Linked DNA regions of Homo sapiens: region 1 is linked to region 2. Evidence: fine-mapped expression QTL. A gene starts in region 2. The other region holds a variant in brackets. All regions are shown on one strand. Distances are from middle to middle.

Region 1 (5,375 bases), 23 kb before region 2:
GCTACTCAGAGGCTGAGGCAAGAAAATCACTTGAACTCAGGAGGCAGAGGTTGCAGTGAGCCAAGACTGCACCATTGCACTCCAGCCTGGGTGACAGAGCAAGACTCCATCTCACAAATAAAAAATAAAAATAAATAACAAAAAATAAAAAACAACACAAAACTTCAGCAGTTATCAAAGAGTAGTTAAGTAAATTTTATGGCACAGCTACCCAAATAAATAATATATAGTAATTAAAGGCTATGGTCATGAAGACAGAGATTTACAGATGGGTGGCCTGGTACCCTTGCCTACATGTGCCGCAGCCAGGATGGTCATTCTTTCTTCTTCTCTCCATCACCATGGCAATTCCTAGGAGCAGCAGAGGATGCAGAGCCCCAAGGAAGGGTCTTTATTTTTCCGCCTTGGCTCAATTTTTCCCTGCAATTTCCTGTTTGGCAAGGAATACCCCTCTAAGCCCATTTTTCATCTTTAAAATGAAGAAGATAAAGCCTTCTTTACAAGGATTTGTGTGAGTTACTAGAGTGTCAAGTACAGTGCCTGGCTCGTGGCACATATTCAACCAGGGTCTGTTCCCTTCTCCCTCCACCGAAACACATTTCCAATTAGAATGGAAGTCAATGGAAAATTCAGGTTGAAAATTCGGATGATTTCACTTTCTAAAGAATCTTTCAAGAATGCATCTGGTTTGTACATAAAAGGAATATCTCTACCCTCATCTGAATACTGACTGGTCTTTCCAGAAAGCAGGCAGATTCAGGGCTTGCCTTTTAGAAGGGATGATGTAATTGTTTGGGCTTTGTATTTATCAGTCTCCAAGGAAACTCAATAATGAGGAAGTACAAACTAGGTGTGTAACTATGCTGACCTCAGATAAGCTGGGGTGTTGGTTGGCATTACATGAACCAACAGATCTTTTTATTATAGATGAACTCTGCTCTTACTCATTTATCCTCTACTTTAGAATGGCTGGAAGTAAAAGACTGGAAAAATGATGGGTGAGAAGTTTTTCTTACAGTAATAAAGCATTACTAGAATCACAAGAAAAATACAAGGGTTTAAAGTATTTGAGAATTTTTGTAATCTGAAGAGAACTACCTTCAAAAGATTAATACAGGTAACTACAGATTTAAAATGAAAATTCAAATATACTACAAATGAAAACTATAACTGAAATTTACATAATTACCTTATTTACATGAAAATGAGGATTTCAGATAGACCAAGTTAAAACGAAATCATTCCTTGTGTGTTATAAAATATGTAAAAATTAAAATTTAACAATTAAAATTTAACATTTATGGTAAATTTAATGAAGTAGCTGAGAACTCCCAAGGAAACTGAAACTAACTGTGGCATGTTTTAAATTAGTTTGCACAACTGCCAGTGTATAGACCAAGTGCCATTTTACGAACTTTCCTGAGAGGAGTTGTATAGAAGAATATGTTCACATCAGTTTTGAAATGATGCAAAATGATCCTTAAAATGACTCTTGGGATTTTTAATAATTATTTTTACTATCTTAATGGCAAAAATTTTATGTGACTTCGTTTTTGAAATTTTAATGGATTCTATTTGAGAAAATATGACTTATATCCAACCACCCAATTAACACACACTAATATACCAAGTGAGTTCAACTTCATACAAGTTTCTGTTTTATGTATAAAAGATAGCTAGCTATATATTGTATTTTAATTACATCTTAATTCACCATAAAAACTAAATAGTATCCCAAATTTAGAAAAATAAGTTAAATTTCAAATCTTCAACTTGGGTCAAATGCATAACCATCACAAACCAGTGTAAAATTTTCAAAAGGCATTATCAACATACCTAGTTTATCATTACTAATTCATTAATGTATCCAACAGACACATACTTTGAGACAAGTAGCATGTTGGGTGTGAGGAATTTTACAAAAGATGTTCTAAACATCTCTAAGTTTGTCCCTTATTTCAAAAACAATACCCATGCCTTGTAGATTATTTAGAAGAGGCACATAAGGCAGAAAGAAATAAAATCACCTACAATCCAATAATCCAACTACTGAGAGATTTATTCACAAATATGGGATCTTAGGGCAGTCTACTGTCCTGAGAAATTCTATCTGGGTGACAAATTGTACACTATGTACTGCTTTTTTTTATATTAATTGCTGCTTTATTTTAGTAATTTTAAAGTCTCACTAGAAGTTTCACTGTAACAAAAATAGAGATTTCCACTCCATGGCTCATGGAAACCAGACAGGGGCATACAGTGGGGAGAAGCAGGGCTTCCTATTACATATTCCCCGATTTCTTCTAGGCTCTAGGCCTCCAGACCTAAACTTATTTTCATCCCTGTCATGATTCATTTGTTGCTGAAATCCATAACGAGCTGAATAGCTCCTTGACTTCACTGTGATCCTGCCAACCCTTCCCACGCAGGAAGGCTTCCACCGGCTTCCCTTATCGCCTTCCGACCCCCTGCTTCCAGCCCAGGACACAGCGTCACTGCCCTGGGGTTTTCCAGCCCTATCCTCCTGCAGTTCCCTTACGGGAAGAACTGAACAAGAGCCAGATACCAGCAG[A/T]GACAGTGAAGGGTCTTATCCCCAGGCCTCCAGGGCAGGAAAAACAGGAATGTGCTGAGCAGTGTCAGAAACGGCAAAGTGCTGGGTGGTGAGAGCAGCGGCAACGATGAGCAAGAACTTACCTGGGGTTCAGAGGCTAAATTCATCTTGTATGGATGACGCTTCCCTTCCTCCGTCACCAGAGGAGACCAGACTTTATGTTCAGATCTGCAACAGATTAACAAAGCTGCTGTTTCACTCATGTAAAATAAATAATATATACCAAAGACAAACTGGAAAAATGCCCCCTCTTTCCTGGACTAGGCACTGAACTAGCACCCTCCCATCAGCTCTACCTTCCATTTGCCACCAGGTTGATCTTTTAAACACCCCAATCTGATAACATCCATGGCTGATGGCTCCCCAGCATAGCCCCAAGGGGCTTCCCAAGCACTTCATCCTCCCTCACCACACTCTGGGTAGCTGACACCAGCAGTGTGGTCTCCTCCATGTTCCTAAGCATGACTCACACTGCCCTATCTCTGCTCAGGATAGAATGGGCTTCTCCTCTATCTCAACCCAGTGTGTTTGGTCCAGACCAAATAACCAACTTATTTGTGAAGCCTGTTTGACCCAAATGAAAATAATGCCTCTTGGCCGGGCGTGGTGGCTCACGCCTGTAATCCCAGCACTTTGGGAGGCTGAGGTGGGGAAATCACTTGAGGTCTGGAGTTTGACATCAGCCTGGCCAACATGGTGAAACCCCATCTCCACTAAAAATACAAAAATTAGCCGGGTGTGGTGGCATACGCCTATAATCCCAGCTACTCGGGAGGCTGAGGCAGGAGACTTGCTTAAACCCAGGAGGCAGAGGTTGCAGTGAGCTGAGATAGCACCACTGCACTTCAGCCTGGGTGACAGAGTGAGACTCCATCCCAAAAAAAAAAAAAAAAGAGAAGAACGCCCCTCTTTTGCTCTTATAAACTATTTTCTTTGTACCAACCACAGAGCAATGATTTTACTTTAGTCTCAGTTTTCATTAGTGTCGTTGTTTCCTCTCTTGCAGGTAGAAAATATTTATACTTATCTTTATTTATTTTATTTATTTATTTTTTGAGACAGAGTCTCGCTCTGTCGCCCAGGCTGGAGTGCAATGAATGGCGTGATCTTGGCTCACTGCAACCTCCGCTTCCCAGGCTCAAGCGATTCTCCCAGCCCAGTCTCCCGAGTAGCTGAGATTACAGGCACCTGCCATCATCCCTAGCTAATTTTTTTGTGTTTTTGTAGAAACAGGGTTTCATCATGTTGGCCAGGCTGGTCTTGAACTCCTAACCTCAGGTGATCTACCCACCTCGGCCTCCCAAAGTGCTGGGATTACAGACTAGAGCCACCATACCTGGCCATACTTAACTTTATATTTGTCACAATGTCTATGCCAGATATACAAGATGTCCCTTTTCAACATGCCGGTAAACAAATAAAAAATCAATTAATCAATGAATGAATGAATGTCCTGAACTCGGGCTTGAAGGAGAGGATTTGGACAAAGATAGAAATGGAGATGAGAATGAAGGGCAGATGTGCTTTTGAGGGGGTAGTAATAACACAGTGTACCTCTCATGGGGTAGGTCTCTGAAGTGTACAAAATATTTTTATATACTCCCCCACACTCGATCCACCTGCCAGTCCTGTGCCACAAAGCAAAAAAAAAAAAGCAAAAAACATACTTCACAGATGAGAATCTAACCAAAGGCTCCATGACAAAGAGCTGTGGCAGCTAAGGTTAGTGAGATAACAGGTGATCAGAATGAAACATCTGAATTTGATGCAGTAGGAAACAGGGAGCCAACTGAGGGTTGAACCAAATCACTTCCGAAATCCTGCCTTTGCGGGACCCCTTCCAAGGCTAAATGAAAGAAGAATGGAAATTCTACCCTAATTACAGCTCCCAAGGTGCTACCCTCATTCATTCTTTTATCCCCAGCGCTCCTTGCTTGTCATGTACCTAAAGTTACACTCAGTACTCTGCTGCTAATGTGTTCAAGTTTTTCTCTGTTATTGCAATCTCCTGGCATGGTACCCACTGCTCAGCACAATGCAGTAGCAGCAGCATCCTAAGGACATTTTTTTTTTTGAGATGGAGTTTCGCTCTGTCGCCCAGGCTGGAGTGCAGTGACGCCATCTCAGCTCACTGCAAACTCTGCCTCCTGGGTTCAAGTGATTCTCCTGCCTCGGCCTCCCGAGTAGCTGGAACTACAGGTGCACGCTACCACACCTGGCTAATTTTTTAATTTTTAGTGGAGATAGGGTTTCACCATGTTGGCCAGGCTGGTCTCAAACTCCAGACCTCAAGTGATTTGTCTGCCTCGGCCTCCCAAAGTGCTGGGATTACAAAGAGAGCCACCGCACCTGGCCAGGACATTTTACTTACTCAAAATTTTGGTTGAGTTGGATCAAGTGAAAATGCAAGTATCTTACTGAAAGAAGCCCACATCATAAGCACCGTGAAAATCAGAGGGGGGCTGGGCACGGTGGCTCACACCTGTAATCCTAGCACTTTGGGAGGCCAAGGCAGGTGGATCACCTGAGGTCAGGAGTTCGAGGCCAGCCTGGCCAACATGGTGAAACCCCATCTCTACTAAAAATACAAAAATTTGCTGGGTGTGGTGGTGCACATCTGTAATCCCAGCTACTCAGGAGGCTAAGGCAGGAGAGTCACTTGAACCCGGGAGGCAGAGGTTGCAGTGAGCTGAGATTGCACCACTGCACTCCAGCCTGGGCAACAGAGTGAGACTCCGTCTCAAAAAAAAAAAAAAAAAAAATA
Region 2 (5,375 bases):
ACTTCCACTTTTCAATTAAAGCACCTGCCAAGGGCATTATAAAGATTAGTTTCCATCACTAGACCATGAACACCTTGAGAATGGAGCTGTGCCCTCTCATTTCTGAGGCGTTTGCACAGTTTCTGGAATATGATACGTGCTCATTAAACACGTGCACACGCCATAAATAAATAATATAAATAATAAATGAGTGAATATATGAAGGTAAAAACCAATGAATTCACAGTGTGGTGTTTTCCACCCCATTCCATCATTCACTCATGCATTAAGACTTTTAAAAGCAGCTAAAGTGAAAGGCAGTAACTGCCCTTTTAACAGATTGCCAATACATCCTCCACTACTTAAAAAAGGGTTTCATGTCATATATAAATCTCAGAAGTGGAGAGGGCTGACAGGTTAATTATAGACACAAAGAACAGGGACAAATGGACTATGAGGTAAGCGAGTTGAAATGTGCAGACACAATGTCCTCCCTGGACAAGCATTTATTAATAAGCCTGCAAGGATTTACCCAGCCCGGCCAGGTACAGGTCTGCTACCAGGCTCGGGGACGATTCTGGGGAAGGCACAGTTCCTGCGCTTGAGGAATTAGGCTGGTGGCTGGAAAGGCAGTGTGTACCTTTGAGAATAATCAGAGGTCTCTGTGGGACGAGGCAAACAGGTGGAAGATAAGGCCCAAAAACTGGCCCGCCTACTCTTTTAGGGGGGTGAGATAGAGAAGACCTCCTCACTGGGCCAGGCCAACCGGGAAAGAAGCATGGGTAGGACTGTGGCTGGCAGACAAGTCAAGAGGAGGCCACCAATTCTTCTCCTGCACCTCCCACCAAACTCCTTCAGCTGCTGGACGCAGGAGCTTGAGTCAAAAGGATCCATAAGGATATTTCCCTTTCTTCTCCACCCTTCCCCCAACCCCAAGTGAAAAAGAAGGATGTTTAGAAAGTCTGGGAGACAAGCTGAAGGGCAGCTTCAGCAGGCAGATGAGCCCAAGAATGGAATGTGCCGCCTACAGGCAAGGAGTGGCCATGGGTGGGGAGAAAGGGGACTTCTTTTTCTCCCTTTCCTCATTCGAGGTACTTACTGAGTCTCTTCTTGGTGCCCAAGCACTGAACGTGACATCTCTTAGTGGGACATCAACCTGTGTTTGGCCAGATTAAATGGCCAAAGCCCAGACCTCTGAACACTGAGTCTGGGTCTCCCTGGGGGTTTCACTTTATTAGGGGGGCAATGGTTCTGGTGGCCCCTGATTCAACGTGAGTCCTTCTAAAGATCCGAAGCCCCTCTTAGATTTCAAGCACCTCAACCCCACCCCAGGTGGACACCCCATCGCAGTATCTACTCATGCCCTGAGAAAAAAGGGCTGGTGCGGGGAGGGGAAAGAGATAATCTGGGAATGCTAGGAAGAATGACGGCGGGGCCACGTTCTGCAGAGGGGAGAATGACCAAGAGGGTTTACTTGAGTTTGTTTGTTGTGTTTATTTCCCGAATCCAGCACATTCTCCAAAAGCCATTCGAGGGGCGAGCCTCGGCCGTGGGTCAAGTCCAAAGAGCGTGTTTCGGTTGTTTTTTTAGGTTAATCCCACTTGCCCCCCACCCCAGTAAACTTCCCACCCACCCCACCTCACTTTCCAGGTCTTTCCTGTTGCGTTCGGCTGCACTGCGATCTGGGAAGAAGGGAGAAGTGCCATCTCCCAGCGCGCGGGATCTGCGGGGACCCTCGTCCCCTCGCTGGTTGACAAAGAACTAACACCCGCCCCGCCGCGCTTCCGGGGCCAAAGAACGAAAACTGCCTTCTTTTTTTCTGGCGGACACGGAGCGCGCCCGCGGCGGGCCGACCAGCCCGGGAGCGCAGCCTCCGCGAAGGGGCGGCGGGGAGCGGCGGGGCCCGGGCGCGCGGAGAGCGCTCAACTAACAGCGCACCTGGACGCGCCCGGCTGCGGTTCCGACTCCGTCCCCGACCGCGCCCGCGGGGCCCCAGTCTCCGCATATCACCTCCCATAGCGCCCCGCTTCCACGCACGTCCCAGCTGCTCTTACCCGGGAAATGGCGAGAGGCTGCTCGAAGTCCTTGCCGCCCACGAGGCGGAAGCCCCACGGCCCCGGGCCCTGGAGGTCTATCTGCTGGGTGGTCATGGCGCGGCTGTGGCGGGCGACGACCCGCGGGGACAGACGGGCAGGACGCGCGGAACAGCTTGCAGGGCACCCCCGGCGGCTGTCGGAGAAAGAGCGGCGCGGCGCGGGCCCGGGGAGCCTGGGGCTGGCGGGGGCAGGGCAACCGCGAGGGCCAGGGCGGGGGCGGCTCCGCCCAGGCCGCGTAGCCGCCCGCCGCCCCGCCCGTCCTCCCGCCCGCAGCCGCTCCCCGCCCTGCGCGCCGGCCTGGGGGCCCTGGCCCGGAGTCCCGCCGAGAGAGCGCGAGTCAGATGCGGGGCCGGGGCTCTCAGCAGCTCTGCCCGGGACCCCACACCGCCTCCCTCCCTCCTGTACGCACGGCCGCACCGCGGCTCTCGGGCCCGGGGCGGGTGCTAGGTGAGAGGGAAGCAGGTCCTGACAGCGAGACAAACTCGCGCCTCGTGCTTTGTAAAACGAGAAATTTGAAGTGCTGTGCCAAGTCAGCCCTCTGAGGTCGGCTCCGACTTCCCATTTGCTTTTTGTAATCGGTAATGATGTTTAAAAGGTGCTTTCGAACGATCTCATTTGATGCTGAGGCAACCGGGACGTTTAGTCCCATTTTACAGATGAAGTAACTGAGTCTGCTCAGTAGGTGAGAAGACTTGCCCGACGCTACACCACTCGTCAGCATCTGGACCACTGCCCGGGCCCAGTGCTGCAGAACCCCATCCTGGAACTTTTATAATGCTAATGAGACCATCACTCAGGTTATAACTGAACTTCAAGGCCTTCCTAGAAATCTTTCCTCCAGGCTGGAGTTCATGGTAGGTTCTGACCTCAACAGTTCAAACCTCAAGTTTGGGGCGGGCCAAGGGCCAAGTCAATGCAAAAGAAGAGCTGAGTCCGGGACCTGGATTCCCAGCCTCCCACCAGCTTCCTAGCCAGGCTCCCCCTGACGCCCTCCCGGTGGAGTGCATTCTCCACGCCGGACCAGACCATTTCTCATGCTGTCCATGGCGTCCCCACCTCACCACCAGTGAAAACCCAGATCCTTACAATGCCTACAAGGCCACCCCTAGAATGGCCCCAACTCCCTCTCTGACCCCAACTCCTCCTGCCCTTTCCTCACCTGCCCCCCAGTCTGCCAGGCTGTGCTCCTTGCTCCTAACTCAGGGCCTTGCCTCAGGGCCCTGTCTGCAATGCTGTTCTCCCAGACATCCCCACCACTCTCTGTCATTTTCTAGGGGCCGGACACGTGGCTCACGCCTGGAATCCCGGCACTTTGGGAGGCTGAGTCAGGAGGATCAGTTGAGCCCAGGAATTCTAGACCAGCCCCAGCAACACGGCAAGACCCTGTCTCTACAAAAAAATTTAAAAAAATAAAAATTAACCAGGTTTGGTGGGGCACACCTGTCCCAGCTTCTAGGGAGACTGAGGTGGGAGGATGGCTTGAGCCGGAGAGGTCAAGGCTGCAGTGAGCTGTGGTCGTGCAACTGTACTCCAGCCTGGGTGACAGAGTGAGACCCTATCTCAAAAACTAAAAAATAAAAAAAATGCAAATGTCATTTTCTGAGGTCATCTCTGAGCATCATTTAAGATATCCTCTCTAGAATGCTCTATTACCTTCCCCTGCCTTATTTTTTTCTTTTGTATGTATCACCATCTGGCATTCTCTATATTTTGTATATTTATTTGTTCCACCCCCACTCTTAAGCATTAATTCCATAAGGACAGGGGTTTTTATCTGTTTAGATCACTGCTGTGCCCCAGTGCCTAGAATAGTGCCTGGCACATAGTACTTAATGTATATAACACATTGGCCATCCTCAGGACCACTTACCCTCTCTGGGCCCAGTTTCTTCGCAGTTTTCTTGGCACCCATTCATCCTGGTACCCAGGCCCCAGCACAGTGCTTGGCATAGAGCCCATGCTCAATGAGTTTGTTCCCTGTGCAGCTCTGTCTCCCTGTGATCCTGGCCTACCTACTGAAGAGCCCTGTGCACAGATTTACACATAAAAAGATTATCTTGCTTGTCCAATTGTGTGACAGCACAAATGCCTATGTTTGGGAATAGTTTGTTTGCTTTTAGAAATCCAAGTGGAGGGCCGGGCACGGTGGCTCACACCTGTAATCCCAACACTTTGGGAGGCCAAGGTGGGCGGATCACCTGAGGTCTGGAGTTCGAGACCAGCCTGACCAACATAGAGAAACCCATCTCTACTGAAAATACCAAAAATTAGCCGGGCGTGGTGGCGCATGCCTGTAATCCCAGCTGCTCGGGAGTCTGAGGCAGGAGAATCACTTGAACCCGGGAGGTGGAGGTTGTGGTGAGCCGAGATCACGCCATTGCACCCCAGCCTGGGCAACAAGCGCGAAACTCGGTCTAAAAAAAAAAAAAAAAAAGGAAATGAAAGTGGAGTTGTATGATTATACATCCCTCTCAACCTCTTGCAACCTGATATTCTTTCCTGAACCTGAGAAAAAGAATGGTGTTATAGCCAGTAACCAGCCACCTGCTTTATGAACACCAAAAATACATTCTCTTTGTTTAAGATTCTGTTGATTAGAAAGCATGACTGTGTTTCAAGTCCCTGCAGAATTTGCAGGAATCACCGAATTCTGAATCTGTCCCTAGATGTGTAACCATCTTGAATATTTTCTGTCCTAGAAGGAGAAAAGGGTTGAAAAGTCACAGCTTCTGTGCTTCTGAAGGCAGAGACTGCCTTTCATTCATTCCAAGTGCCCTGCTAGCATGGACCTCAATCACAGTAGGTGTCAATAAGTGTTTATTCCGTACAATAGTCTATACAGACATAGTGCACTAATGTGTTAGCAAAATGTCTGTGAGACTTGAGTCCTCAGTTGCTTTGTTTTTAAATGTCCTCGGTTGTAGTCTGGCTCTACATAACAAGAGCTATAAAACAGTCAGCCCTTTGACCCAGTCATCCACTTTCTGGGCAACAATTCCAAGGACATAATTTTTAAAAAGAAAAATGCTGTATGTATACAGATATTTATAGCTGCATTATTTATAATGACAAAAAACTGGAATCAACCAGTAACAGAAAAGTGGCTAAATATGGTATGGCCGTAAGAGGGAAGAGTATGCAGCATGAAAATAACCAGGAAGACTGTGAAGAGACAGGGAAATGTGTTTTCAAAATATGTAAAAAGAGTGCAACAAAATTATTCGTATACCGTGTTAAAAAATAAAAGCTTATCTACCTATTGAAATTAAGAGAAAGTAGGAAAAGTAGTGGCAGACAGAA

The links. PIP is the estimated chance that this variant, and not a neighbour inherited with it, causes the effect.
Region 1: its variant is fine-mapped to the expression of PDLIM1 in whole blood (INTERVAL, PIP 0.96).

The regions. Positions count from the first base shown.
Region 1 is chr10:95,266,084-95,271,458 of GRCh38, forward strand. It overlaps PDLIM1 (PDZ and LIM domain 1), which reads right to left. Exons shown (of 7, transcript NM_020992.4): 3 at 2,695-2,779. Among named protein-coding and RNA genes, the nearest start is that of PDLIM1, 22 kb to the right of the region's middle. The variant A/T (reference allele first, on the strand shown) is at 2,573.
Region 2 is chr10:95,288,787-95,294,161 of GRCh38, forward strand. PDLIM1 (PDZ and LIM domain 1) reads right to left here and starts at 2,217. Exons shown (of 7, transcript NM_020992.4): 1 at 2,034-2,217. The coding sequence starts at 2,129. RefSeq lists enhancers at 734-1,053, 4,778-4,867 and silencers at 1,775-1,884, 1,905-2,004, 2,055-2,444, 2,495-2,574, 4,218-4,287.